Linked DNA regions of Homo sapiens: all the other regions are linked to region 3. Evidence: fine-mapped expression QTL. A gene starts in region 3. Each other region holds a variant in brackets. All regions are shown on one strand. Distances are between the middles of the regions.

Region 1 (6,470 bases), 53 kb before region 3:
AAGCTAGTTGTTGGAATTTCGCTGTAAACTTTATTATTTGGAACACAGCTTTGATTTCAGAAATATAAATGGCACCTGTGGGTTGATGGGGCTAGTGGCCCTCTGAGAAGTTTGCCGTATGCTGGCAAAGTGTCAGTGCGTGGATACAATCTCACGTCAGCGTCCACTGAGTTTTGTGTGTAAAACTGAGCTAATCTGACCTGTTTTTTCGGACAAACTTGTGCCTTGTTTATGGGAAACTGTCCACTAGAAGCCACTGAGGGCTCAAAGCAGAGTCGGCAACAACAGTCAGATATAACAGCTAGAAAACAGTAGGAAATAAGAAAGAGTATTTTAAAAGCTCAGCAATCTGGAGCTTTCTGATACAGGGCAAACAACATGACCTAACACAATGTCTCCTAAGAGAACAATGTGCCAGCACAACAGTTAATATTCAGAGTGAAAGCCCAAAATATCAAGAAAAGTTGAAATAAGAGAAAATCTTCATTCCTTTTTCTTTTTTTATTATTGAGATGGAGTCTCACTCTGTCACCCAGGCTGGAGTACAGCGGCGTGATCTCGGCTCACTGCAACCTCCGCTTCCTGGGTTCAAGCGATTCTCCTGCCTCAGCCTCCCGAGTAGCTGGGACTACAGGCACGCGCCACCACGCCTAATTTTTTGTATTTTTAGTAGAGACAGGGTTTCACCGTGTTAGCCAGGATGGTCTTGATCTCCTGACCTCGTGATCTGCCTGCCTCAGTCTCCCAAAAGTGCTGGGATTACAGGTGCAAGCCACCAAGCCCAGCCACATTCCCTTTCTTTTCGTGCCTCCTAAAGGAACCATGAGCTCCCTGGAGCGCCCAGGAATCCAGTAACACTTCCAGCTCTCTGTCTACTCCCTGCTTCAGTCCTTCCATGGCAAGAGGATACCTGAGGCTTCTCCCTCTGGCTCTGCCGCCCACAGGATGAACACTGGCCCCAGTGCATGTGGGAGAATCTCAGAGAAGTCACCCCAAGGTCTAGCTTTCGGAGCAAGAATTAGAAAGCCTGAATAGGGCTGCCCATTGAGACTGTGTTCTCTAATCCAACTATGTCAGCTCTTCAAAAGTACATATTTTGATATCCCTCTGAATGATTCATGAATCTATTTCAGAAATGATTTGAAATGCACAAGGATGAGGAAGAATTGTAATTAATCAATACTCCCAAATCTCTAACACGCATCACAGTCTGTTAAAGAAGAGAAGCATATAATTTAAAATAATTTCATCAAAGTGTTTTTTTAATTCTTCAGAATTAAAACAGAAGAATCTAGACACTTGGAAATTTCAGCCATTCAAAACACCTCACCTTCTCAATCATGCAAATTAAACAATGGATTATCATACACATTTAGACAAGGAGAAAAAACTCAAGGTAATGTTGTAGGCATTTCTATATTATTTCAGTACTGAAAATAATTCTGAAGAACTTTGGCTTTTAAAAGGGCTACATGCAGAGGCCTTTATGAATTCCCAAATTCTAGAATGCTACTATAACACAGAATTCCTTCTGTAATGCTTATACCTTCTAGTTAACATAGAATTCCTTCTGTAATGCTTAAACCCTCTGATTAAGGACCATTATCTTTTAGACCTCCATATTGCCTTAATTTCTGCCACGAGCACTAGTCCCTAGGGTTGTGTTTGGGATGCAGGGGTGGTGGGTATTTTTTAAATACACACACAAGTGTTTTACTTCTCATGTGGAACTTTTCTTCCAGTGGAGGGAGCAGAAAACAAAAGAGCTATTGTGAAACACAGGTGCATCTCACCAACTCTACTCTCTTGAAAACCACAGGAAAGAGGATATCATCTTGTAATGTGGTTCATATTTGTGTCTCAGAAAAACTATAAACTTGCCAGGCATGATGGCTCATGCCTATAATCCCAGCATTTGGGAGGCTGAGGCAGGAGGATCACTTCAGCTCATGAGTTCAAGACCAGCCTGGGAAATGCAGTGAGACCCCATCACTACAAAAAGTAGGGTGTGGTGGCATGTGCCTGTAGTCTGACCTACTCAAGAGGCTTGAGGCGGCAGGATCGCTTGACCTCAGGTGTTCAAGGTAACAGTGAGCTGTGATCACACCATTGAACTCCAGCCTGGGCAACAGAGCAAGACCCTATGGCTTAAAAAGAAAAAGAAAAATTATCAACTGTAAGTTACTTAATGTCACCAGCTTTCAGGATTACTGCAAAAGTCAAAACTATGAAGATGTCAAGAAGATCTTTTATATTTGATCATTATCAAAAGTGTAAAAAATACTCAAAAAAAAAAAAAAAAGAAGCATAATCCAGGTGTTGTGGCACATGCCTGTGGTCCCGGCTACTTGTGAACCTGAGATGGGAGGATCACTTGAGCCCAGAAGTTCATGGCCAGCCTCGGCAACATAGCAAGACTCCAACTATTAAAAAAAAAAAAAAAAGCATAAAGAAGAAAATGTATATACTATATATATTTCTTTCTGGAAAGTGAGATAGGTAGGTAGGTAGGCAGATATCTATAAACACACATTTTAAACAAAATGGAGATTTTGTGGATTATAAAATTTTAAATCTGATTCTTTTCACATTTAGGCTATTTCTAGCTTTTTACTACTATAAACAATACAGCCATCCCTCAGTATCCACGAAGGATTGGTTCCAGGGCCTCTCACAGATACCAAAATCCACGGATGTTCAAGCCCCTGATATAAAATGGTATAGTGACTGGGCGCAGTGGCTCACGCCTGTAATCCCAGCACTGTGGGAGGCCGAGGCGGGCGGATCACCTGACATCGGGAGTTTGAGACCAGCCTGGCCAACATGGTGAAACTCCATCTCTACTAAAAATAAAAAAAAAAATAGCTGGGCATGGTGGTGC[G/A]TGCCTGTAGTTCCAGCTACTCAGGAGAATGAAACAGGAGAACTGCATGAACCTGGGAGGCAGAGGCTGCAGTGAGCTTGAGATCACACCACTACATTCCAGCCTGGGCAAGAGAGCGAGACTCTATCTCAAAAAAAAAAAAAAAAGTATATCAAAAATCTCAAATTTAGATTAATCTGTGCCTTATAGCTGTGATTCCCAAACTGCACACTGAAGCGCTTCAGTGAACTGGCAAAGATGCTGTAGATATTTTGACATTTCAAAGATAACAGTGACATCTGACACCACACGAACTACTGGGTGGAGGCCGGTCACAGTTACGACACGAGAGTCCTGCATTCGTTTCAGTGATGCCACATCTTTGCAAAGCTGCATATTCAGGGATGGTTGTGATAAAAAGCAGGCACTAATGAAAAAATTGCTGTGGATTAGGAAATGAGGAAAGTTGTGTCTAACCTGATTCCAAGACTTGAAAAGCTGTACAGTGCCGAGAGAAGCTAAGTGGTTAGGACATAAATGCAGGGCATGTGCCCCTGTGGTCACACAGGCACTGCATTTCGAAAGGACCTATGCCTGTCTTCATGTTGTCCTGTCTCTGACTTGAAATTGTCAACAATGTTTTAACAAGGGGCCCTGCATTTTTATTTGGAACTGGGCCCCGCAAACTGTGTGGGTGAAATACAAGTAAAATACAAGTAATAATGGGAAAATCTGAACAATTTGGGTGAAATATATCAATAACAATAACCTGATGGTGACATTAATTCATATTTATATATAATATATAGTTATATATACATTCATACATTATATATAGACACATACATGTATATATAATATATACATATTATATACATTTATATTATATATTAGTATACTTATACACACTTTATAAATTAGCATATTATATACATACATAAAAGTTATAATTAAACTTATTTTCTATTATTATTTATCTTTTAAAAAATAGGGTCTCACTCTGTTGCCCAGGCTGGAGTGCAGTGGGTGTGATCATAGCTCACTGCAGCCTTGAACTCCTGGGCTCAAGTGATCTTCCCACCTCAGCCTCCTCAGTAGATGGAACTACATGTGCCCATCACTATGCCTACCTTTTTTTCTTTTTCTGTAGAGATGGGGTCTCCCTATATTGTCCAGGCTGGCCTCAAATTCTTGGGCTCAAGCAATCTTCCCACCTTAGTCTGCTGAGTAGCTAGGACCAGAGGTGCATGCCACCACATCTGGCTAATTTTTTTTTTTTTTTTTTTTTTTTTTTTTTTTTTTTTTTTGAGATGGAATTTCACTCTGTCACCCAGGCTGGAGTGCAGTGGCACAATCTCAGCTCACTGCAAGCTCTGGCTCCGGGATTCACGCCATTCTCCTGCCTCAGCCTCCTAAGTAGCTGGGACTACAGGTGCCCACCACCACGCCCAGCTAATTTTTTGTGTTTTTAGTAGAGACAGGGTTTCACTGTGTTAGCCAGGATGGTCTCGATCACCTGACCTCATGATCCACCCACCTCAGCCTCCCAAAGTGCTAAGATTACAGGCATGAGCCACTGCGCCTGGCCCAATTTTTAAAATTTTTTGTAGAGACAGGGTCTCACTGTGTTGCCCAGGCTGGTCTTGAACTCTTGGCCTCCAGTGATCCTCCTGCCTTAGCCTCCCAAAGTGCTGCGATTACAGGCATGACCCACCATGCCTGACCTTCTATTTTATATTGGACTTTATCATAGGAAAAAAAATTATCAAGAGAGTAAGGGCACCAAAACCAAGAAAGTTTGAGAAACTCTAATTCACAACACTTGGGTAGAAAGAGTGGTGAAGAAAATAAAGTTAATAATGTGTGTTGCAAGAGCTTAGAAATCATTCCCTAGACTCTGAAAAGCAAAAATGATTCTGTGGCTGACTGCTATGGTTACTACTTGAGACCGTCATCACAGCAATTACTACTGTTACTGCTTGAGAGCGTCATTACAAGACTGAACGAAGGAGGACGAACGTAGAAATGAAAACTTGAAGCAAAAGAAACTGTTTTAAAGGAAGGGGAACCGAGGAAGAAGAGAGCTCCCGGCTTCTAGTGAGCAAAGGCAGCTAGCTCCCGAGCTTCCACAGCCCTTCCCATTTATTGGTTAGCAAAAGCAGGGAGGAGGAGGTAACGATTGGTCAGCTGCTTAATTGATCACAGGTTCATATTATTATTAACAGGCTTCAGATGTGCCTAATCACAAGAAACACGGCACTTGGGGCGTGACTGCCCTCAGCTTTCCTTCTGGGTGGCAAATGCAGTTTGTCAGTTTGCCAACATTCTGCATTTATGAGAAACAGTTTTGCTGCTTACTCAAATAGCCTCCAGTGGTATACTGAGTTATCACGACCCTCATTCTTTTGGCTTCCAACATGATTCCAAAGCTAAGTCAGCACTTTTTTTTTGTTATAATGCTGTGTCTTCGATTTAATGAAAAATTTAGCCATTCCTTTGCCTAATCCACTTGTTTTTTTGTTTTTTTGTTTTTGAGACTGAGTCTCACTCTGTCACCCAGGCTGGAGTGCAGTGGTGTCATCTTGGCTCAGTGCAACCTCTGCCTCCAGGGTTCAAGCAATTGTTGTGGTTCAGGCTCAGGAGTAGCTGGGATTACAGGAGCGTGCCACTATGCCTGGCTAATTTGTGTATTTTTAGTAGGTTTAGACAGGTTTCACCATGTTGGCCAGGCTGGTCTCTAACTCCTGACCTCAACTGATCCACCCACCTCTGCCTCCCAAAGTGCCAGGATTACAGGCGTGAGCCACTGCACCCCGCCTGTCTGACCCACTTCTGCTTATTATTCAAATCTTTCCCATATTGCAAGAAACAACAATCTTTCTGAAAAATAGTTTGATGATATATAACAAGAGCTTTTAGAAAGATTAGAACCTCTACTCCAGTAATTCCATCTCCAGGAATCTATCCAAAAAACTAATCAGAAAGGCAGTCAAAGACTAGGTACATGAGTGTTCAATAATTACTTATTCACAATAGTGTGAAACTGGAAACGAGCCTACAATTCCAGCAACAGGATGATGTTAGTAAATGCTGGCATTAAAAAAATGCAATGCAGATATCAAAAGTCATGTTTTAGAAGAATATTTACTAACATGAGAATGTGCTTAAGATATAAGTAAAAAAATTAGGCATGACAATATCATATATAGTATAAGCTTCAGTTTTTAAATATCTGGGTAAGGGGTGTTTTTTTTTTCCTTCTATATATTTCCTTGTATTTTCAGAAGTTTCCACAATAAGCATAATTCACCTTTATAATCTGGGAGGAAATGGTTCTTATTTATTTTTTTTTTTAAAGACTATCTTTCCCATAAAGTAAACAAAATAATGGTTTATATAAAGTATGTTTTCAGGGGTGGGTGCAGTGGATCATGCCTGTAATCCCAGCACTTTGGGAGACCAAGGTGGGAGGATTACTTGAGCCCAGGAGTTAGAGACCAGTCTGGCCAACATGTTGAGACCCTCTCGCTACAAAAAATAAAAAATTAGATAATGTGGTGGCTGACTGCCTGTAGTCGCAGCTACTCAGGAGGCTGAGGTGCAAGGTTCA
Region 2 (6,470 bases), 31 kb after region 3:
CAAAGCAGGAGGATCACTTGAGCCCAGGAGTTGGAGACCAGCCTGGGCAACAGAGTGAGACTCTGTCTCTACAATTTTTTTTTTTTTTTTTTTTTTTTTGTGTGACAGAGTCTCACTCTGTTGCCCAGGCTGAAGTGTAGTGGCATGATGTCAGCTCACTGCAACCTCCACCTCCCGGATTCAAGAGATTCTCCTGCCTCAGCCTCCTGAGTAGCTGGGACTACAGCTAATTTTTCTATTTTTAGTAGAGATGGGTTTCACTATGTTGGCCAGGCTAGTCTCGAACTCCTGACCTTAGGTGATCCACCCACCTCAGCCTCCCAAAGTGCTGGGGTTACAGGCATGAGCCACTGCGCCCAGCCAAAAAAAATTAAAAATTAGCTGGGCATGGTGGCAAGTGCCTATAGTCCCACCTACTTGGGAGGCTGAGGTGGAAGAATCACTTGAGCCCTGGAGGTCAAGGCTGCAGTGAACTCATCACTACTGCACTCCAGCCTGGGCGACAGAGCGAGACCCTGTGTCAGCAAAACAAAAGACTATAAGTTGGTGTTGGACCACATTCCTCTTAGCCTCTGCTGTTGCTGCAGCATCACAGTCTCCTAGGAGAATTGCACTCTTTCCCCACCCCCCAGGGAAACAAAATAAAAGCCATTTGAAAAAAACATGGATTGGGTGGCTTTTTTTTCTTTTCTTTCGTGTGTGTGTGTGTGTGTGTGTGTGTACAGGTGCTTATTGCCAACTAATCACTGATGCATAGCAGCTGTGTAGCATAGCAGCTGTGGAGGGAACTGGAGGGGAACATGCACTGACTCAGTGCTTTTATCTTTGGGGCCAAGCCCACGTGAGGAGGAAAATGGCAGTTTGAGCACATGACAACCACCGAGGGAAGTGTTTTCACAGAGAGGCGGTAGCAGCCACACGTTCACTGGTCAGGTCTGCAGCTTCTGACAGACTGTGTGGGTTTGTTTTTGTCTCCTGTCCAGACTTGTGTTTGCTCAAACCAATTCTTGGTGCAAAGGGGCATCCATGATGCCTTTGTAAAAGCATTCGCCGAGGCCATGAAGAAGAACCTGCGCGTAGGTAATGGATTTGAGGAAGGAACTACTCAGGGCCCATTAATTAATGAAAAAGCGGTAGAAAAGGTAAGTATATTGTATTATTTGTGAAAGTAAATTTCATGGTTTCAATATGAAAAGCTTAATCAGCAAAAAACACTTTGGCTGGAGGGGTGGGGATAGAGAGGGGTGGGTTGACAGAATATTACAGCTAGACAGAAGGAATAAGCTCTGGTGTTCTACAGCACTGTAGAATGACTGTAATTAGCAACAATGTATTGTATATTTTCAAATAGCTATTATTAGAAGAGTAGATTTTGAACGTTCCCAGTATAAAGAAATGATCAATGTTTGAGGCGATAGATGTGCTAACTATCCTGATTAGAGTATAGAGTATGAGAGATCTACATCTATACATGGAATCGAATGGAATTTTCAATGATGTTTTCATACAAAAACCACAAAGGTTAAAATAAGTAAAAAATTAATAATAGCTAAAAAAAATGATGTTAAAAGGCAAAAAAAAAAAATGAAAACAAAAAAGTCATTTTGGTAAAGTGCCCAGCAAGCCTATTTTGTAAACAATGGAGAAACCTGAGAAAAGTGAATTCTGCCTACCAGTTATATGAATCGGGTTGTTGTCTGGTCATGAGCTGCTATAGCCCTGCCATTGCACCAAGTCCCCATGCGGTCTGTCACTGTAGCTCTTTACTGTCCTCCCTAAATTTTGTTATAGTGATGATAATTCTATCCCTCACTGCCTCAGCAATTAGGATCTTGAGACAAAGTTCATTCATCTTTTGGAACACCTATGGAATGGAAGACTGGCTTGGTTTTGAGATGGTTTGCGTTTCGGCTGTAATGCTGATGTTGTCCTGTTCTTTCTTCTCTTGATGACAAAATCCCTGTCTAAAACAGTCCTTCATGAAAGTATCCCAGCCGGGGGTGCAGAATCACAGATGCCGCGTTCAGGATTTAGAGATATTGAGGGGAAACTGCTTTTAGGAAAGATTTGTTTGTTTAAAAAAATGTTATAATCCATACTACTAGCTATATGAGACTTCTCTCCTTATTCTACTGTTTTAAAAAAATCCATTTTGGAGTCACAAGAAAGTTTCTTGTAATATCAAACATCCAGTTTTTTGTGTTTTTTTTTTTTTTTTTTGAGACGGCGTCTCGCTCTGTTGCCCAGGCTAGAGTATAGTGGTGAGTCTTGACTCACTGCAACCTCCGCCCCACTGAGTTCAATTGATTCTCCTGCCTCAGCCTCCCGAGTAGCTGGGGTTACAGGCACCCACCACCACGCCTGGCTACTTTTTGTATTTTTAGTAGTGCTGGGGTTTCACATGTTGGCCAGACTGCTCTCGAACTCCTGACCTCAGGTGATCCACCTGCCTCGGCCTCCCAAAGTGCTGGGATTACAGGCGTGAGCCACCATGCCTACCCAGAAATGGTTTTAACGGAATATTTTAAATCAGGAAGACAGTAGAAGCTGAAGATTGTGTGTGGGAAAGAAGGGAGGAGAGGTGGTCAGAGGGAGACACACAGTGGAGGCACAGCCAGCCCCTGGATGCAACTGAAGAACCAGAAGCAAGTGACAGCCAAGTCAGTACTCATCATGGGAAGCACAGCCCCACCGCTGTTCCTCAACCTCCTCAGAGCCTGAGAACCAAGCCCTGACTCCATGGCTGCCTCCACCCCGTGGGCAGTCAACTCAGCTGAACCCACATCCATTGCCTTGGGAAACCCAGGGAAGCCTCGAGGTTTGACAGAGCTCTGATAAATTTCTAGTTACTGTCTTGGGATTACTCTAGATAAAGAAAATACATTAAAATTTACATTGGAACCACCTGCATTTTAGAGGTGACTTTGGACCTTGGGGACAAGGCAGGGGTATTCACTTGTCTAGTGAAGGCAATTTGGGTCTAGGCCAGCTGTGGTTCAAGTCCTAGAGTGGTGGTCCTTAACTCACACCGTGCCTTTATCGACTACAGTTGCCTGGGACCCATCCAAGAAGACTAGGTGTTAATTTATGTGTAGTCAGCCTAGGCATTGGCATTTTCTAAGTGCCCCAGTATGATGCTAGTTTGCAGCCAGTCTGGGAAACCACTCTGTCTTGAAGATTTTTTTCCCCAAAGGGAAGACGCAGACATTGTCCTCCAGATGGTGCTGTACGCCAGGACTTCAAACAAGCAGACAGCGAGATTTCTTTTTTGCTGGAGAGAAATTTGGTGGAAACCACCTTGTTTAAAAACACTTCATTGTGTTGGCTTTAGTGTACATACTGTCATAGAGTGGGTTCTAGGAAAAAAACACTGCATCTCACATTAATATGACAAGAAAAGGGCAGAGCAGATTATATTTGGGGAGGAAGGGGGTATTTTTGTTAAGTAGAATTATTTTTATAATATAAAATTCATAGAAAGTAAGCCATCCTAGCCGATGGGGATTAGTTGCAGGTGATGCACTATGAGAGCATTGCAGGAGGGGCATGGATTTCAAAAGAGTCAGTCTCAAAGACAGAATGCACTCACACCTATATTTACCTTCCTGAAACCCTATAGAAAATTCAGCTGAGGGCCGGGCACAGTGGCTCACGCCTATAATCCCAGCATTTGGGAAGCTGAGGCGGGTGGGTCACTTGAGGTCAGGAGTTTGAGACCAGCCTGACCAACACAGTGAAACCCTATCTCTAAAAAAAAAAAAAAAGAAAAGAAAAATTAGCCAGGTGTGGTGGCAAGCACCTGTAGTCCCAGCTACTCAGGAGGCGGGGGCAAGAGAATCTCTTGAACCCACGAGGCGGAGGTTGCAGTGAGCAGAGATCGCACCAGTGCACCCCAGCCCAGCCTGAGCA[ACAAAACAGAAGT/A]CAAAACAGAAGTCAAAATAGATGGGTCTACCCAGGGGAACCCTGCAGAGGAAATTGGTGCCATTTTAAACGACAGAGCCTTTCTAGAATTGGTGGCTACAGAAAGTAGGAATAGGAGGAGGGGAGGAGATGAAGCTGGTTGATTCTACTTCTGCACAATTTTCTGGGTCATTCCCACCATCCCTTCTCACCACGACCACCACCAAGACACATGAGACAGCAGAGGCATTTGTTCTGGGCAGGACAGCTTTTCTGAAGAAATATAGTAGGTATCTAGGCAGACTACAGCTTCAAGAGCGAGGCTAGGTACCTCAGGGTAGGGCTCTCTCGACTTTGCCTTTTGGGGAAGGGAGCTGCCCTTATGTGAAGCCTGCAAGTTAGAATAAACCCAAGCTTAAAACAGCAAAGACCACTCATGCCACACATCCCCAAATTGATCAACCCAGTCCTTGTGTGTGTGTGTGTCCCCCAAACACACTGCTGGAGCTGAGAAGGAGCTGACCAGGTTAGTTTCGACAACTCAGTCCTTCATTCAGAAAGATGAACAACCAAGGATCATGATGGGAAAACCACCAGCACATAAGAGGAAAGGTCAGGAAGAACAAACAGAATAGTCCCTGAAGGAAGCAGATAAATTAGGGAACTGGAAGGAAATTTTCTAAAAATCTCATAGTGTCCTGCAAGAGTTTTGGGAAGATAGTACATCTGTAAACTGTTAATAAGAAGTATGTTCTAGGCTTAAAGTATAATAATAATAAAAAAAGAAGTATGTTCTAGGAAATGAAGCAATGAAAACAAAGAGTCTGTAGAAATTAGACATATGACTGTCACAAGATTCGGTACCTGAAGTAGATGATAAAATTTCGGAGATCTTATGGAGTTTAAAGCAAACTATAGAGAGGCAAAAAATATAATAGAAATGCAAAAAAAAATCAGAACTAATCTGAACTCCTGTTAATACCCGTCCAGTAGTAGGAGTTCTGGAGTGAAATAATTGGGAAAATGGAGGAAGTGACATTACCAAGTAAATAATAGATGGAAACTTCTCAGAGTTAGGGGAAAATAATTATTCTGCAGATTGAAAGATTTCACTGCTTACCAAGTAGGATGAATGAAAAGGGAATATATATATATCTTCTCTATATATATATATTCTATATATATATATCTTCTATATATATATTCTATATATATATCTACTATATATATATTCTATATATATCTACTATATATTCTATATATATATCTAATATATATATATGTGTGTGTGTATATATATATATATATATATATATATATATATAGTATTGCTAAAATTTTAGAATATCAGAGCATAGAAGATCCTAGGAGATTTCAGAGAGGAAAAAGCTATCAAGAAGAAAAAGGGTGAGAACCATTTTTGGCTCAAACTTCCTCAGCAACACCGGAAGTGGAGAAGTGCACTCAAAGTTCTGAAAGTTATTTTGTATCAGAATTCTGTACTCAAGCAAATTATCAATCAGGTGGAGTACAAAACACCAGAAACTTGGTGTATGAAAATTCAGAAACTAGACCACATCCAGTGCATCTTTTTTAAAACAACTACTTGGCCAGGCCTCGTGGCTCACTCCTGTAATCCCAGCACTTTGGGAGGCCAAGGCGGGTGAATCACGAGGTCAGGAGTTCGAGACCAGCCTGGCCAAGATGATGAAACCCTGTCTCTTCTAAAAATACAAAAATTAGCCGGGCGCGGTGGTGGGTGCCTATAATCCTAGCTACTCGGGAGGCTGAGGCAGGAGAATCGCTTGAACCTGGGAGGCAGAGGTTGCAGTGAGCCAAGGTCATGCCACTGCACTCCAGCCTGGGTGACAGAGCGAGATTCCATCTCAAAAACAAATAAATAAATAACAACTACTTGAGATTATGTGTGTCAGAAAGCAACAAAAACTCAGTTCAGGAAATAGGACAACATGGGATCCAAGAAGCTAGAAATAACCGCAGAATGCAATGAAAGCAAATCCAAGCAAACGGCTGAGCCGCAGGCCTAGAAAGAAGCGAATATATATTAGACCATTCAACAAATAGGAAGATCAAACAGCTAGAAGATATCAAAGACCAAGGAGGAAGGTGGCACTCTTGCTTCTGAATCTCTGCAAATGTGGTTCCTTCTACAAAAGGAAACCAGCATGCTTTATTGTTAACCTACTTTTTTTGAAAAAGAAAAAAAAATGGAACTAGTTATAGTTTTCTGCAGTTTAAACATTCTAAAAGATTGTATCATGTGGAAAGCTTTTTTTCTTCCTCATTACACAGGTGGAGAAACAGGTGAATGATGCCGTTTCTAAAGGTGCCACCGTTGTGACAGGTGGAAAACGACACCAACTTGGAAAAAATTTCTTTGAGCCTACCCTGCTGTGCAATGTCACCCAGGACATGCTGTGCACTCATGAAGAGACTTTCGGGCCTCTGGCACCAGTTATCAAGTAAGATCCTCCAGCCAGCGGGGAGATGGGAGGAAGAATAGAAGAGAACATAGGAAACCCTGAAAGAGATTCCTGGGCTGCTTTGAG
Region 3 (5,716 bases):
TGAGATCACACCACTGCACTCCAGCCTGGGCAAGACCCCACCTCAAAAAAAAAAAAGGAATGGGTTCAGTTACCAAACAATACTAATCCCAAATGTCTCAATTTCTCATTATGCATTTTTTTGTATTTGAGATTCAGAATGACATAAACGTATAAATGTAATAAAATAAGAGGAAATTATTTGCTTAGTGTGATAGTTATGAATATGGTCTTTATATGACAATATTGCTTGCAGTTTTATGAAGTTTGTATTACTTTGGTAACAATAAAAACATCAAAGATATGACTTTAAAGAAAGTTAAAACGTAGCTCACAATATTACTATCTGACAAATAATAAGCATATGGAAATATTTTTCTTTCTGCCCCACACCCCCCTTTCCTAATATAGGTGGCTTTGTTATAAACAAGACAGCATGATTCTACCATTTAGAACTCTTCTGGAAATAGAGACCCAAGGTGAAAAGTAAACATACAGTTACATTAAGGAGTGAGTAGGGAGAATACAGGTTTGAAAGCCAGAGGGTCTCAAGCTTTATGTGGGCCAGTCTAGAAAATGGGGGAGAAGAGGCTGGGCACAGTGTCTCATGCCTGTAATCCCAGCACTTTGGGAGGCCGAGGTGGGCAGATCACCTGAGGTCAGGAGTTCAAGACCAGCCTGGCCAACATGGTGAAACCCCATCTCTACTAAACAATACAAAAATTAGCCAGGCATGGTGGCGCGCACCTGTACTCCCAGCTACTCTGGAGGCTGAGGCAGGAGAATCACTTGAACCCAGGAGGCAGACGTTGCAATGAGCTGAGATCGTGCCATTGCACTCCAGCCTGGGCGACAGAGTAAGACCCTGACTCAAAAAAAAAAAAAAAAAAAAAAGTGAAAGAAAAAAAAGAAAAAGAAAATGGGGGAGAGGATGAATAAGGGTGGGAACTGGGGAGTGGAGGTTCCCAGGACAAGGGCAGCCAAAGGAGAAAGGAGGGAAGAGGTCCCTCTCACCTGATGGTCTTGTCCTTGTAGGCCCTGGTAAGGACAGACACCCAGCCAGGCGCTAGGGGGCATCAGGACAGGCTGGAAGTAAGACAGGAGCCAGGAGGAAATTGTTTACACTCTGAATGGGGGCTTGAAGAGGGGCACAAAACTGAGGGAAAAGGGGAGGGCCACATTGTGAACTTTCTAAGCTCCAGGCGCTTTTGCCTTTGTGAAGTACTTCCTGTCACAAAAATAAGTAAACAATAAATAGAAATCACATTTTACATCTGCATTGGTGTAAGATTAACATATTAATATGCCACCTAAAACTTCTTTTCTTCAGATTTTAGAATAAATTAAACATTTGTGAGTGCTCCTAAAAGTTTTATGGGCCCTTGGCATCGTACCTACTGTGCGTAATGGATAAGTCATCTGGGAAAGGGAGTGGGTACCGTTTGAAATAGAACCTTAAAAAGGTAAGTGGGCTAGGGTAATTTTTGAACAAGAGAGGCAGCCACAATTAACTTGGCTTTTCTGGGCCTCAGTTGATTGAGGCCTCAATTGAATGATTTCCCCAGGCCAGTAGAAATGAGCCCTGTAATCCCAGCACTTTGGGAGGCCAAGGAGGGCGGATAACTTGAGGTCAGGCATTCAAGACCAGCCTGGCCAACACGGTGAAAACCTGTCTCTACTAAAAATACAAAAATTAGCTGGGCTTGGTGGCACACACCTGTAGCCCCATCTACTCGGGAGGCTGAGGCAGGAGAATCGCTTGAACCCGGGAGGCGGAAGTTGCAGGGAGCTGAAATCGCACCACTGCACTCCACCCTGGGTGACAGAATGAGTCTGTCGGTCTCACAAGAACAAAACAAACAAAAAACAAAAACCACCACCAAAAACAAAACAAAACAAAAACAAAAACTCCCTCCGCAGGCAGGAGATGTAAACACGCCAGCTCCCCAGCCCCACCTGTGATACCTACTGGCCCACATCCCTATTAGGACTCCCTGGTTCTCCCCAGTTCCTGCAATAAAATACAGAGCAAAATAGTGTGAAATTGATTAAACTCTACTGTTATCACTTCTGCCATATGTGACTGGCTCAAAACTCAATGGATCTGACTCAGCAAAAGACAAAGTCAAAATTTAAAGTTACTGCCTCGGCATTTTGCAAATGTCCTAGAAAAAAATTCAACGTCCTAGAAAAAGGTGAAAGCTAGCAAGATACTCTCAACGCTGTAGGAGTTGAGAAAGGGAGATATGTAACCTAAAATCAATGCATAGGGCTGGGCTTCATTTGCACCCACAAATTCCCAGCATACGCCTGCTATTTTTATTTTTATCCTCATTAGGTTTTAAGCTTCCCTGCTGCTTTCAGAGTCTTAAGCCCAAGTCTAATTTTTTAACGGATGAAGAATGCTGTTTAAAGGTGCTCAAATACCTTGGTTGGATAGTATGCTCAATCCTTATACCTTGGTTGATTCAATTTTGACAAATGCTTCCATTTACTAGTTGGTGACCCAACTTTAATCTTACTAGTGGCTTGACTAGGGTAGCTAGTATGACTTTGAACGCTATATTGAATTTAATGTGGCAACTGTAATGAGCATTTTACGTTATCTCACAACAAAATGGGGTAGATATGGTTCTATTTTATAAGTGACTGGACTAAGGTTAACCTGTCGGTCACACAGCTTGTCGGCAACAGACTTGAGTTTGGATCCTAGTCTGTTTATTTCCAAAGCGCTGTTATTTATCGGGAGCAACCCTAGGAGAATGCCTAGACACACACCCAAAAAAGCAGCCAGGCAGCAGAACGCGGGGTCACACTTCGACCCCTCAGAGAACGATCGCTCCCAATCAATACTACGTGCTCAGGAGCTACAACTGAAGAAGCGTGATCACGGCCTTGGCATTTAGGGCAGGCACCAGCGCATCTATGGACCGCGCACAAATTCCGGGGATGCCGAATTTGGGGGATGCTAAGGGGAGAGAGTGGGTCTCTAGCAGCGATTGGGGGCTCAGGAGCAGTTAGTGACAAATGAGCACCCGAAAAGTGAAAAGGTGACAGCAGTCCGCAGGTGCATCTACTGGCGAGCCTTCTCCATCCCCGAACCCAACCCTCCCCCGGGAGAAGGTCGCGCCAGGAGAGAAGCCGCGCGGCGCTTAGGGCAAGGTGCAGAGGGCGGCGCGGCGGTGCAGCGAGAAAGACGCGGAGAGAGGGCGCTGCTCTGTGGCTCTGCAACCTTCCGCCAGCTCCCACGCTTTCCCCGCGCGTCCCCGGCGCCTCCTCGCTCCTCTTGCTTCCCCGCGACCCCTGCGTTCCCGTGCGCGCGCGCCCGCTTGCCTGTTTCCTGTCGCCGTCGTTGCCCGGGCCATGGCGACCTGCATTTGGCTGCGGAGCTGTGGGGCCCGGCGCCTCGGGTCGACGTTTCCAGGCTGCCGCCTCCGCCCCCGCGCCGGCGGCCTGGTCCCTGCCTCCGGGCCTGCGCCCGGCCCGGCCCAGCTCCGCTGCTACGCTGGGCGCCTGGCGGGCCTCTCTGCGGCGCTGCTGCGCACCGACAGCTTCGTGGGCGGCCGCTGGCTCCCGGCCGCCGCCACCTTCCCCGTGCAAGACCCGGCCAGCGGCGCCGCTCTGGGCATGGTAGCCGACTGCGGGGTGCGAGAGGCCCGCGCCGCCGTGCGCGCTGCCTACGAGGCTTTCTGCCGCTGGAGGGAGGTCTCCGCCAAGGTGAGAGAGCCCGGATGCAGGGGGCCAGAGCTGGCCGGGGACACGGCGGGGAGCAGAGGGGGCTTTACCCCAAAGTGACACCAGCCGCGTCGCCTCCCTCCTGTGCTCAGTTCCCCAGGGTATACAAAGTGGAAAGTCAGAGCAACAAGGGAGACGACCGACAAATAAGTTTGGAGCTTCCACTTTGAGCCGGGCACTAGGGACACGACCCCTGCCCTCAAGCCTCATCAAGTTATGCACTGCCCAGTAGGGGAGGCAGAACGTGAGCGCCTAATACAAGCGAGCTGCTTGTTATGGTCAACAAGCCTAACCGTGGAGGGGCGGGGAGAAAGGGGAGGGGTGTCAGGGAAGTGAGAGCACGTGTGGCCCTTCAGAGTAGCTGAAATATCTCCGCAGCTGCAGGGAGCCCACGCAGGAGGCTGCTTCAGCGGCCCTTGAGAAGGCTGGTAGTGAGGGCCCCTGGCCAGAATCATGGGATCGGAAACGGAGAGAACTGTAGAAAGATTTGGGTTTTGTGCAGGGGAAGAGAGAAATCCAGGAGCGTTCTCCAGGTTTTCACCCTAAATGGATAAATGCTGCTATTGGCCATTGCATAGAGAACACTGGAGAATTGGGAGTAAGGGGTGGAGGGCCATTAAATGGGAAGAATAGAGTAAGAAGAAAACTAAGAAAGTAGTTTCTTCCTTCTAATATTATATTATTAAACCTGGAGTCAACGCAGTGAAATTTTTTACCGTGTCCTTCAAAGCTCTCCCTCTGAAGGAATGCATCCAGCGATCCCTACGAGTACAAGAGAGTCTTAGCACTCATTCATCCATCAGCTGTTTACTGAGCACCTGCTGTATGCCCTGCACTGTTGGAGGTGCTTGGGATACCTCAGTTAAACGAAAGAAGGATTCTGCCCTTATGGAGCTCACATGGGGTGGAAGGGGAGCAGAAGAGAGATCAGAACTCTAAACAACAAACATAATATCTAAGCAAATAAGTATGTGAGAGATGCTGAGTGCAATATGGAAAAAAGGTAGAAGCAGGAGAGGATCCGGGCCAGAGGGAAGGGGCAAGATGCAGCATCAACAGTGTGACCAGGCATATTCCTCTGCTAGGGCTGCCATAGCAAAGTACCACAGACTGGGTGGCCTGAACAACAGACATTTCTCATTTTACCGCTCTGGAGGGTAGAAATCCCAGATCGAGGTGTTGTCAGAGTTGGTTTCTTCTAAGGCCTCTCATTGGCTTGCAGAGAGCTCAGCTTTTGTCTTTGTATCTCATCAGACCTCAATTTTAGACTCATGGAGTCTGAGATGTCTGTTCACGCCCAAGTGAGGATGTAAAGTAAGCAGTTGGTTATATGAATGAATCTTCCCTGTGTGTCTCCACATGGTCTTTCCTCTGTGTGTATATGTGTCCTAATCTCTTCTTCTTTTAAAAACAGGAGTCAGATTGGATTGGGGCCCACCAGAATGACCTCATCATAACTTAATTCCCTTTTTAAAGACCCTATTTCCAAATGCACTCACATTCTGAGATACTGGGGGGTTAGGACTTCGACATGTCAATTTTGCCAGGAGCACCATTCAGCCCGTAACATCAGGGTAGGTCTCATTGAGGACATGAGATACAAAGACCAAAGGAGGTAAGTGTGTCCGGAGTTGGTTCCTGCCGGTAGGTTTGTGGCCTCGCTGACTTCAAAAATGGAGCCGCGGACCTTTGCAGTGAGTGTTACAGCTCTTAAAGATGGCATGGACCCAAAGAATGAGTGGTAGCAACATTTATTGTGAAGAGCAAAAGAAGAAAGCTTCCACAGCGCGGAAGGGGACCCGAGTGGGTTGTCGCTGCTGGGTGGGTGGGGCGTGGTGGCCAGCTTTTTATTCCCTTATTTATCCCTTCCAGTGTTCCGTTTCTGTCCCATCAGAATGCCTTTTTTTCAATCCTCCCTGCGATTGGCTACTTTTAGGATCCTGCTGATTGGTGCGTTTTACAGAGCGCTGATTGGTGCATTTTACAGAGCGTTGATTGGTGTA
Region 4 (6,470 bases), 31 kb before region 3:
AATAAACTGGTTACGACTGAGAAAACAACCCCCTGTAAAACTGAGTTGAAGAATATAGTCAAGTTAATCACAGGTTAAAAGACCACAAAATTTTAACGTCAGAAGGCTGAAGGAGCAACACAGAAAGTTTTAGAAAACCTTCATTTCACAAAATCTTTTAGTAAACACATTTCTAAGGCTTAAAAGCCTATCCTTATAAAACATATTTCCTATAATATCAGAGCTCTATGGTAGGAGTAAAAGGCTTCAATTCTTTCCAGATTATGAAAAAATTTAGCAACAGGTATCAGCTGGTGGGGAAACTGCTTTGCAAGCATACTGATTTTTTTTTTTTTTTTTTGAGACGGAGTCTTGCTCTGTCACCTAGGCTGCAGTGCAGTGGCACGATCTCGGCTCATTGCAACCTTCGCCTCCTGGGTTCAAGCAATTCTCCTGTCTCAGCCTCCTGAGTAGCCTGGAACTACAGGCATGCACCACCACACCCAGCTGATTTTTTTGTATTTTTAGTAGAGATGGAGTTTCACTATGTTGGCCAGGCTGGGCTCGAACTCCTGAGCTCAGGTGATCCACCTGCCTCGGTCTCCCAAAGTGCTGGAATTACAGGTGTGAGCCATCACGCCCAGCCAGCATACTGATTTATCTTCAAAGACATGCTAAAATTAATTATACAATAAAAATACATTTTCACATTCAAAGATGTCAACCAGCCAAAAAGCAGATGACTCAGGGAGCCAGAGAGGCTTCAGAAATGACTGAAGTAGGGAGTGGACAACAGCCGTAAGTGACGGGGCCCTGGGCATGACACCAACTAGTGTCAGGGTTCTGGCAACCCCAAGAAAGATTGCAAGCCTAATCAAAAGGTGCTCAATGTGATTAAACAACAACAAAGTATGTTGAAGGAATGGTTTGCTAGGAAAAAAAGAAAAAGAAAAAAAAAAGTTACCCAATTCAAATACAACAATGACGACTTCACTGAACACTTTCTGTGTAATTTTCATTCTTCCAAAGTGCTAAGATCATTCCTCTCAGTACCTTTATCATTGCAATACTCTACTTTTGAGTATATCTCACTCTTGATCATCCTTAAATATCCCGGTTAAGCCATCACTTCTTCAAGGAGAGCTCTTTTGTGCCCAGGGCCAGGACGCTCTGTTGCAAATCCCCAGAACACCCTGCATTTTTAATTCCTGACACTTAAATATCTGTTAAGCCATCACTTCTTCAAGGAGAACCCTCCTGTGCCCAGGCCAGGACGCTTGCAAATCCCCAGAGCACCTTGCATTTTTTCTTCCTAACACTTAACAATGTCCACAATTACTTGTTTAGTGCCCAGCTACCTGCCAGGCCATATACCTGAGAGCAGGAACTGTTTCTGTCTTGTTCACAATGATATCTCTAGTGCCTGAACCAGTTCCTGGCACGTACTGATTAATAAATGATATTTTATTATTTGTGTTATTTTGTTCTATTTTATTAATAAATATACACATATTTGTAATATTAATAACTTATTAAATGAATGCATAAATGACTGTCGGTTGGTACCTGACTCCAGCAGAAAATATCATTTCTTAAAATACAAACCAGGCTTCTGGCCCTTAACATTGAGGGCTTCTCCCAACACTGTCTCATCAATAAATAAATTTTCATGTAAAATCTGGGTGAAGTTTATGAGTAAGACAATAATATTGATAGTTACAATAATACTAACTACATTTCTTCTTTCTTTTTTTGAGACAGGATCTCACTCTGTTGCCTAGACTGGAGTGTACTGGCCTGATCTCAGCTCACTGCAGCCTCGAACTCCTAGGCTCAAGCAATCCTCCCGCCTCAGCCTCCCAAGTAGCTGGGACTACAGGCACACACCACCATACCTGGCTAATTTTGTTCATTTTTTGTAGATATAGGGGTCTCACTATGTTGCTGAGGCTGGTCCTGAACTCCTGGACTTAAGGGATCCTCCTGCCTCAGCCTCCCAGAGTGCTAGGATTACACGTATGAGCCACTGTGCCCAGCCACTAACTACCGTTTAATGAGCAACTCAACATGTGCTAATTGCTTTACATCCACCACTGCATGTCATCCACACCATAATTCTGGGAGTGTTGATGTGCTTTTTCCATTTTGCAAAAGGAGGAAGCTATAGCTCCAAAAATCAAGCAGCTTGTTTAAAAATCACACAGCTGCAAGTGACAAATCTGGAATTTGAACCTACAGCTGTCTCTCAACAGATCCCGTGTTCTCAACCTCTATAGGGCATCTCCTCCAGGTGAGATGTACTTTTTCTATGAACAATTTTGGAATCCACTTACCCCTGGGTGTGGTTTTGCTGGCCGCCACATGCAATGAACAGAGGGTTCTCAGGCAGGTTGCAGTCACTGAGGAAACAGTCAAATGAGTTAGCCATTTATCTACTTCTTCACAAGCATGAATTTTACCGAGAATCGGTAGTGCGCTTCAATCATCTCCCAAAGGCTTAAAGTGTTTATTACCTAGCCATACAGGACTAATTAAGAGCCCATGTTCTCCCAGAGAGGGTGGGTAGGCTGACGGTTGTCACTATCATGGTAATCCAGGAAGGCTCATGCTGCCAGTCACCCCAGACTCAGCCTTCCTCTTCCCTCCCCGCTCCACCTGCTGAGCTGTTCCACGCTAACACGAAACGTCTCAGAATTTGAGAGTGTTATCAACACTGGTTACCAATTATGTCACCTTCTGCCCAATTATACACATTTATGCCTAAATGTGTCTGAATTTCTCAATTTCATTTCTTTAAAAAAAATTCCATAATTTCAATAATTAAATAGCTAATGAAGGATCCCCTTTTACAAGTGAAAAAGCCTCTGAGAACATAAGAGATAAACTCTTCCCAATAGAGGCTTTCCCCCAACACTGAACAGAAGCACTGAGGAAGCAGGTATTAATATAAGAAGAGTATTCTGGAATGAAGACTATCTTAAGATTTGTATGGAGGTCACTGAGGGAGGCTGGGGTAATACAAAAGTAATGTGGAGTGTAGGGGTGAAGAAAATTAGTTGCTGAAAAAGGAATTCCAAAAAGGAGGTGGGAAAAAGCTGAAGGCAGACTCTTCCTACCAAAACATTTCTCTGGCCAGGTTTGAGCTGAGGAAAAGGTTCTCTCTTTGGACCTTTTCTTGTCCACCACAGGACACAAAAGGCAGCCTTACAGCATTAGCACTATACTTTCAAATAGAGTTTGAGGTGAGTAGAGTTCTTGGCAATGTAACTACCACTACTTCATTGCTTTTTTAAGGAAAATATACCAAATAACATAAGTGAGCTTTGGAAGATAACCTGTGTTAGTAAGCTGGGAAATGCCTGTTACTATGAACATATTTATGTTTTCCTTTCTGTTATGAA[T/C]TTTTTTGTGTTGTCTCTTTTTGGAGACTTCTCTGAATTTCCCATACATTTTCATAAATTCTGATGAATCTTTCTTTGTATATGTATGCAAACAAGCAATCAACTCATGGAATTTTACACCTTGGTAAATTGGGACAGGGATCAAGAGACAAGAAATATGTTCTTTCTCAATTATCTTTTCCTAACGAAAGAATAAGGTCCAGCTATCTTTCCTTAGCTATTTGGAGAACCAAACCAAAATTGAACACCAAAAAATGTTTTCCAGTTTGGATTATATAAAACAAGTAAGTGCAGGTCAATCACTCAAACATGCCCTTATGTTATGAGTCCTTCCAATACAAACTTTGCTTCCTTCTAATAATAATAGTAACCAATACTTAGTAAGTGCTTACTCTATTCTAAACCCTTTACATGACTGATCTAATTTACTCCTCACAAAAATCCTATGGTAAAAATAGTATTGCTGTCCCAATTTTATAGGTGAGGAAATAAGATTTTGGAAGGTTTAGCAACTTGTTCCAGATAACTCAGTAGTGAGTGGCAGATCCCTTAAATTCTGTACAACCACGGCAGTATGCACCTAAAAACCCAGGTCCACGGGAGAGCTTGGGGATTTTAGTTGAGGTTTATTTCACTATTAAAAGTGGCATTCATATGAGATTGCTATCCCTGCCAAATTGTTACTCACCGATTGTTAAAAACAAGTTTATTATGTACCAAGCTAAGGTCGAATTTGTCATCAAAGGGAATTTTGTTTCAAATCAACACAATATATAATTATGGTTAACACTGTTTGGGTACTAGCAAATGTTTATAAGGGTAAAGGAATATCACCCAGTATAATATTCTGGATCTACATTCTGTAGGCCATTCCAACTTATGAACAGCTAACTCTGCTATGATCCTGACCTGGAACAGTCTCCCAGGCACAGGTCCCGCCCAGAGAACCCTCTTTCCCACTGCTGGTGGTACAGCCTAAGCTTCCCGCTCTGCCCTTTCCCCGATTCGGGGGCTGCCCTGTGCTTCCTAGCCACACCCACATCTCAACCCGGTTCAGGTCAGTAGTGGGGAGAGGCTGCATGTCCAACAGCATGATCAGAAATGGGTTCTCTGGGCCAGGCATGGTGGCTCACGCCTGTAATCTCAGCACTTTGGGAGACAGAGGTGGGTGGATCACTTGAGGTCAGGAGATCGAGACCAGCCTGGCCAACCAACATGGCAAAACTCTGTCTCTACAAAAAATACAAAAATTAGCCAGGTGTAGTGGTGAGTACCTGTAGTCATAACTACTCGGGAAGCTGAGGCAGGAGAATTGCTTGAACCCAGGAGGTGGAGGTTGCAGTGAGCCGAGATCGCACCACTGCACTCTAGCCTGGGCAACAGAGCAAGACTCTGTCTCAAAAAAAAAAAAAAAAAGAAAAGAAAAGAAAAGAAAAGAAAAAAAAAGAAATGGGTTTTCCGGCCACGCATGGTGGCTCATGCCTGTAATCCCAGCACTTTGGGAGTCTGAGGCGGGTGGATCACTTGGATCTCAGGAGGTGGAGACCAGCCTGGGCAACATGGTAAAACCCCATCTCTACCAAAAATACAAACAATTAGCCTGGTGCAGTGGTGTGAGCCTGTGGTCCCAGGTACTCGAGACTGAGGCACAAGAATCACTTGAGCCCAGGAGGTGGAGGTTGTAGCGAGCTGAGATAATGCCACTGCCCTCCAGCCTGGGTGACAGAACAAGACCCCATCTCAAAAACAAAAAACAAAAACACATGTGCTCTTAAAAAAAAAAGAAAAAGAAAGAAATGGGTTATCAGAAGGGCCTTGGCTCCCTCTGATCTAGGGGTAGTGTAAGACTCTGTGAGAGTCTAATGATCTACTACAGCTAGAAGTGGGGACAATCACAGTCTACCTTATCTATATTTCGGCTGAGTTTCTGATTAATTCTTGTCCTGAGCATGCTTAGGAGAAGAAAAGGAACTGGAGGTTCAGCAGCTGTCCCATCTGGGCTAGATGTCAAATTTCAACAGAATGTTTTACAAATGCATTTATTTCTCATTTTACGTTGGAGTGTGTGTCGGGGCATGTAGCTATAGCTCTATTTGCTTCTGTTTTTTTAGTATTAGGTGAGGTATCCTTTGACACCCTGAAACCCTGAGAGTGTAGTCAGGGTGGAGAGGTGTGTCACCACAGCAAGAACACAGCCACTCTGGGACCTGTGGAGACCTGGCACTCCAGCCCCCAGCATGGGTTTTCCCAAAAGAAACAGATGGAGGCTGGGTGCAGTGGCTCATGCCTGTAATCCCAGCACTTTGGGAGACCAAGGCAGGTGGATCACTTGAGGCCAGGAGTTTCAGGCCAGCCTGGCCAATATGGCGAAACCTCATCTCTACTAAAAATACAAAAAAATTAGCCAGGGATGGTGGTGCACACCTGTAGTCCCAGCTGATTGGGAGGCTGAGGCACGAGACTCCCTTGAACCCAGGAGGCAGAGGTTGCAGTGAAGCCGAGATCGTGCCACTGTACTCCAGCCTGAGCAACAGAGCAAGACTCTGTCTCAAAATAAAAAGAAAGAAACAAATGGAGCACCACCTGTGGAGGCTGATTCCTGCCTGGCTGAGCCATTTCTCACAGACCCCAAATATTGCAATAACTGTCTCTCTATTTCTAAAACACGAGCAGCATCAACCAAGCCAACTGGATGGGAACCAGTCAAGTTTATAAGATCACTGAGTTTCCATTCTTTCCCTCTTTGAATAGGTTAGAAAAGCACTTCATGAGATTGTTTTGTTTTGTTTTTATGTGATCAGTTGAAAAACCTGAGAGTTATGTTGGGGGATGGGGTAAAAAGGCAGAGAGTGATTGGTAATAGAAATGCAATATGAATTCACCTGGTCCCATTCTCCAACATGAAGCTTGTTAGATGGTAAATATTAGTGGACCAAAATGCCATATCATCCAGTCCTCCAAGAAAATACTCTTGGAATTGTTCCACCAAAAACGGGGACTTTGTAGAGTAAGTGGGATATAACTATGGCAGAGAGAAAGAAAAAATAAAATGAATATGGTACTATTCCTGGTATCTTTATAATCCTTTAA
Region 5 (5,000 bases), 960 kb after region 3:
CTTGGCACTCTGTAGATCTTTCATAAAAATTTTTTGAGTGAATTAATGAATTCATAAACTATTCATTAAATGATTACTCTGTGATAACTAATGACAGTATCAGTTAACATATATTGACATTACCACACACCAGGGATTCTTCTTTTTTTTTTTTTTTTTGGAGAGTCTCCCTCTGTCACCTAGGTTGGAGTGCAGTGGTGCAATCTAACTGCAGCCTCTACCTCCCATGCTCAAGCAATCCTCAGCCTCCTGAGTGGCTGGGACTATAGGCACATACTACCACACCTGGCTAATTTTTGTATAGATGGTGTTTCGTCACATTGCCCAGGCTGGCCTTGAATTCCTGGGCTCAAGTAATCGCCTGCCTTGGCCTCCCAAAGTGCTGGAATTACAGGCTCAGCCCTGGGGGGGTTATTCTAATAACTTGATAGGTACTATTATCATTTTTTCTCACAATAACCCTATGGGATAACATCTCAGAAACTGACAAATTCAGAAATGTGTCAGTTCCTGAAAAAGGAAACTTTGGGATGGTTGGCTGTACTTTTAACCACTACTCTGTCTTGTCTCTGCATGTGTGGGCATGAACTTTGTTAGGTTCTGAGGAGGAGGATGGGGGGTTGGGAGGAGCTGCATATGTTCTCTGCCCCAGAAGAATCATGGCCCAGGGGAAGAGGTAGCAAAAGGAACAACTATTCCAGTATGACTTGATCAGTTTCTTGATGGACATGTGTGCAAGGCACTATAGAAGGACAGAAGAGATTTTTACTTTAATTAATTGAAAATTAGTAATTTATATTTGGTATATACGTAATCTAATAATTCATTAAGTGGAGCAACTTTTCAAACTATTCTAACAAAATCTAACATTATAAAACTATAACATGGAGACTGCATTGCTAAATACCTTTCATCTACAAAGGAAAGTTATAGGGATTTATTATGTTTTCTAGATTTCTAGCTCTCTAGTGCTCAAAAAAATTGAAAATTGAAAAATTGAAGAAAAACTGAAATTGAAGTGACCCTCATCTTTGTTGAAGAAAAAGGAATGTGACAAAATTTATTTCTATGTGCAGTCAAAAAGTGTGGTTTGTGAAATGTGTTGTTGTTGTTGATCTTACAGGAGAATCATGAAAAAAGTCTCCATGGAGCCATCTGAGCGCCTGGCTAGTCTCCAGGCGCTGTGGGACAGCCAGACCGTGGCTGAGCAGGGCCCCTGTGGTGAGCATGCATTTTAAAACTGAAATGTGAATAGCTGGATGGATATCCCCCTGCCAGGAAGTTAAGTCTATTCCTAGTGTGCTACTGTAAAGGTGCAATTAGTTTCAAGGTGTAATTAGCAGCGCACAGACTTTAGATTGGTGGACAAAAGTCCTATATTTAAGCTGTATTGCATCCTGCTATGTACTTACTATAGAACAGGGAGGAGAATCTTTGCTGTTTTCCCCCCTAAAAAGGAAAAGGATAATCAGCATTGTCAACATCGGCCATATTTAAGCTTTAAAATTTTAATTTAAACATCATTTTGCCAAAGACCTGTCAGTGTTTTTGTTGTATGTTTCAGGTGGATTTTCTCAGATGTATGCCTGTGTTTGTGACTGGCTTGGATTTTCATACAGGGAAGAAGTACAATGGGTAAGAATGTCTGTGTACATGTGCATGAGCACACACACTCCTGGAGAATATTCTAATGTTTGGCTGGCTTGTTTTTCTTTTTTTCCCTTCATTTATTTTTCACTTAAAATCTTCACTTCTCAGATTACATAAAAACCTGCCATTGTCATTGTCTAATTCTCACTGTCTCTCTTGCTTTCCTGGTCATCTGCATGGACTGATGACATGACTGAATTATATTTCAAATAGGATGTGGATACAATTTATCTTACCCAAGACACCAGGGAATTGAATTTACAAGATTTTAGTCATCTTGACCACAGGTAAGCTGCTTCCTTCCTTCTTTCCTCCTTTCCTCCCTCCCTTCCTCCCTCCCTTCCTCCCTCCCCTCCCTCCCTTCCTCCCTCCCTTCCTCCCTCCCCTCCCCTCCCCTTCCCTCCCCTTCCCTCCCCTCCCCTTCCCTCCCCTCCCTTCCCTTCCCTTCTCTTTTCTCTTTTTTCTTTTCTTTTCTTTTTTCTTTTCCTTCTCCTCTCCTCTCCTCTCCTCTCCTCTCCTCTCCTCTCCTCTCCTCTCCTCTCTTCTCTTCTCCTCTCCCCCTCCCCTCTCCCCTCTCCCCTCTCCCCTCTCCCCTCTCTTCTCTTTCCTGCAGTTCTCTGTTGGCACTTAGGGCTGTACATTATCTCCAAAGAATTGTTTTATAAGAGGAATCAGTACAATCTAAGAATCTCTAGATTTTTGCCTTTCAAGTTATAGTTTCAAATATGTTTATCACTGTGGATGACTTGTGGAGGTCCACAGTGCATGTGTGTATCCAAAATCCAGAGTTCGTAGTTAGAAAATGTGCTGAATTTTACCATAAAAACAGTATAATTCTTAGGTTCTTATGTCAGCCTACAAAAGTCTGTCTATTCTACCCTGTCTATAAAATGTAGTATTATTTTACCTAATTGCCATTTAGAACATTTTTTCAAGGATGAACTTTAATACTGAAATTCTGAGATATGACTTTTAGTTCAGAGTTTATGAATTGGGCATTGGTAGGGTGTATATGTGTATGTTGGTGAAAATCAGTTTGCCAGTATCTGCCATGTGATAGTGATAATAAAGTCATGAAACCTGTTACAAGTTATT[T/G]GAGAAACTTTTAGGTTTAAGATCTTGACTTGAATATATTTAGGGCTATGGCTTGTGAGATTCAGACCTCAGAGAAAAGCTTCATTTTTCCCCATGTCTCTTAGCACAGCAGACCTGGCAAATTTATTTTGCTCTCTAACAGTCGAGCCCGGCCCTATTCCAGAGTGTCTGGTAATTTATCTTGGCCTATCCCAATCTCTTCAATTCTGGATGTGCTGCTACTTATTAGTAGCAGGGGTAGCAGGGGTCAGCCCTACTTAATAAACTCCAGCCCTACTTAATAAATTAGTAGCAGGTAGGCAGGGGTCAGCCCTACTTAATAAACTCCAACCCAATAAATCTTTTCTCTCTGATTGGAATTGGGAGAGAAATCTGGGATTCCAGCTATATCATTTGTGCCATTTGGACAACTGAAGTGTCACAGAGGATTGTTGTTGCCCATATGTCATCTCATCACTAGCATCTTGCCCCCCCCTCCCCCCCCCAGAATACTGTTTTGAATTATTTTTCCACCTACCTGGCAGGAAATCCAGAATTGCAGTGTGGTCCCTGAAGAGCTCTAGCCAACTGAATCGGCCAGGGAAAAAGTATACTAGCTGGATATACCTCCTCTTTGCACAGCCTGGGACTACGGAAGATGGTGAAGCAGGCTCAGCTGTGTCTGTAGTTGTGGCTGATGGGCCTAAAGCCTCCAGTTCTCAGGCAATTTTTTTTTTTTCCTGCTTAGAGCAGTTCTCCTTCTTCCTATAAGTGAGGCAACTTTATACTTTCAAATTTAGACAAGATGTTTCCTGTGTAGCTCATAAAAAAGTGAACTGAGAAAGAAAAAGGGAAAATATTTTACTTTGTAAGTATTTTCCAATAAAACAAGAAAATTGCACGTGGAATAAGATAGAAGTTTACAGTCCTCCAGTGTTTGGTCTCAGCGTTTTTGGTCCCTTTACAATCTTAAAAATGATCGATCTTTGGTTTTTGTGGGTCAAAACATTGGTATTTACAATATTATAAATTAAAACTAAAATTTGAAATATTTATTAATTAAAAAGTGACACTAATAAAGCAAACCATTACGTACTAACATAGGTACTGTTTTTATGAAAAAGTAAATATATTTTCCAAAACAAAAATAAATCAGCAAGAAGAGTGGCATTGGCTTATCTTTTTGCAGATCTTTTTAATGTTTGACTTAATAGAAGACAAGTGGATGCTCATATCTACTTCTGCATTCACAAAATTGTGATATGTTGTTTTGACTGAAGTATGAAAAGAAAATCCAGCCTTAAAGATGTGTAGTTAGGAAGTATTTTCAATAGCCTTTTCACATAATTGTGGCTATTCTTCCTTGGTACTTCACCAAAACTCAACAAGTGGTGGTTTCTTAAAGATAAGTTGCAATGTAGAATCAGAACCATATCAATGAACTTTTTTGTATTTTGTTACATTAAAGTCTGTTTGGTCTATCTTCTCCTTTGACTGGGTCTTATCCATACATAATTTTGTAGCATTGTACATTGGTAACTTAGAAAATATTGGTTCATTGAGTTATACATAGCTTTCAAGTATCTTCCTCTTGTATAATAGCAAAAGAAAAAAGAAAGACATTTCATAACTATCATCACTGATATTATAAAAGTTTTTTGAAGTACTTCAGAGGTGTTGAGCTCATAGTAGCAGACAAAAGTTTTCCAAAATTTAAATTTTTGCTTGAAAGATACAATTTTACTATTGGAAAAAAAAAAACAAACATATTATCAGGTGAAGTGATATCTTGAAGTGACCAGATTACTTCTTAGATTTTAGAGGGAATGTCTACCAAATCCCAAATCTAAATAACTATACGTTGTCATTTTTTTGTGATAGTCCACTGAAAAAAAGGAGCTGGTTCTGCTTAAAAATGCAACTATCACACAAACACTTTACATTGAGACAGTGATCCCTTTGATATATAGAGGAACATACTTCCCATTTTGAACTTACTTCTCATTCTGTTACACAGGATATTAAAATGTTTGTACTCAAGAGCTAAAATTTAATAAAATGAGTAATGTTTACTGCTTCACTGAGGACATTCTAAAATGAAATTGATGTTTGTTTAAAAAACTAGGAGCTTGTGCCAGTGAAGACTCCCGCCTTGGCTTGTGCTCAGGTGCTAGCAGTTTTCCCCACCATTGCTTTTGCACCTTCCATGCAAAGGGCAACACAGTGAAAGGATAAGTTTGTTTTAGAGTTGTTATGAAAACGATTTTGAACCTGTG

Evidence for each region. PIP is the estimated chance that this variant, and not a neighbour inherited with it, causes the effect.
Region 1: its variant is fine-mapped to the expression of ALDH5A1 in skeletal muscle (GTEx, PIP 0.99).
Region 2: its variant is fine-mapped to the expression of ALDH5A1 in whole blood (TOPMed, PIP above 0.99).
Region 4: its variant is fine-mapped to the expression of ALDH5A1 in monocytes (TOPMed, PIP above 0.99).
Region 5: its variant is fine-mapped to the expression of ALDH5A1 in vagina (GTEx, PIP 0.93).

Annotation. Positions count from the first base shown.
Region 1 is chr6:24,438,296-24,444,765 of GRCh38, forward strand. All of the region lies in intron 20 of GPLD1 (glycosylphosphatidylinositol specific phospholipase D1), which reads right to left. Among named protein-coding and RNA genes, the nearest start is that of MRS2, 39 kb to the left of the region's middle. The variant G/A (reference allele first, on the strand shown) is at 2,882.
Region 2 is chr6:24,521,784-24,528,253 of GRCh38, forward strand. It overlaps ALDH5A1 (aldehyde dehydrogenase 5 family member A1), which reads left to right. Exons shown (of 10, transcript NM_001080.3): 7 at 984-1,142; 8 at 6,214-6,383. Among named protein-coding and RNA genes, the nearest start is that of ALDH5A1, 30 kb to the left of the region's middle. RefSeq lists a silencer at 671-720. The variant ACAAAACAGAAGT/A (reference allele first, on the strand shown) is at 3,910.
Region 3 is chr6:24,491,656-24,497,371 of GRCh38, forward strand. It overlaps ALDH5A1 (aldehyde dehydrogenase 5 family member A1), which reads left to right and starts at 3,314. Exons shown (of 10, transcript NM_001080.3): 1 at 3,314-3,695. The coding sequence starts at 3,342. It also overlaps a transcript of GPLD1 not described here. RefSeq lists a silencer at 3,320-3,709.
Region 4 is chr6:24,460,418-24,466,887 of GRCh38, forward strand. GPLD1 (glycosylphosphatidylinositol specific phospholipase D1) reads right to left here. Exons shown (of 25, transcript NM_001503.4): 10 at 6,263-6,402; 11 at 2,313-2,378. Among named protein-coding and RNA genes, the nearest start is that of GPLD1, 26 kb to the right of the region's middle. RefSeq lists a silencer at 2,455-2,655. The variant T/C (reference allele first, on the strand shown) is at 3,381.
Region 5 is chr6:25,448,775-25,453,774 of GRCh38, forward strand. It overlaps CARMIL1 (capping protein regulator and myosin 1 linker 1), which reads left to right. Exons shown (of 37, transcript NM_017640.6): 6 at 1,124-1,221; 7 at 1,565-1,635; 8 at 1,864-1,937. It also overlaps a transcript of LOC124901281 not described here. Among named protein-coding and RNA genes, the nearest start is that of CARMIL1, 170 kb to the left of the region's middle. The variant T/G (reference allele first, on the strand shown) is at 2,746.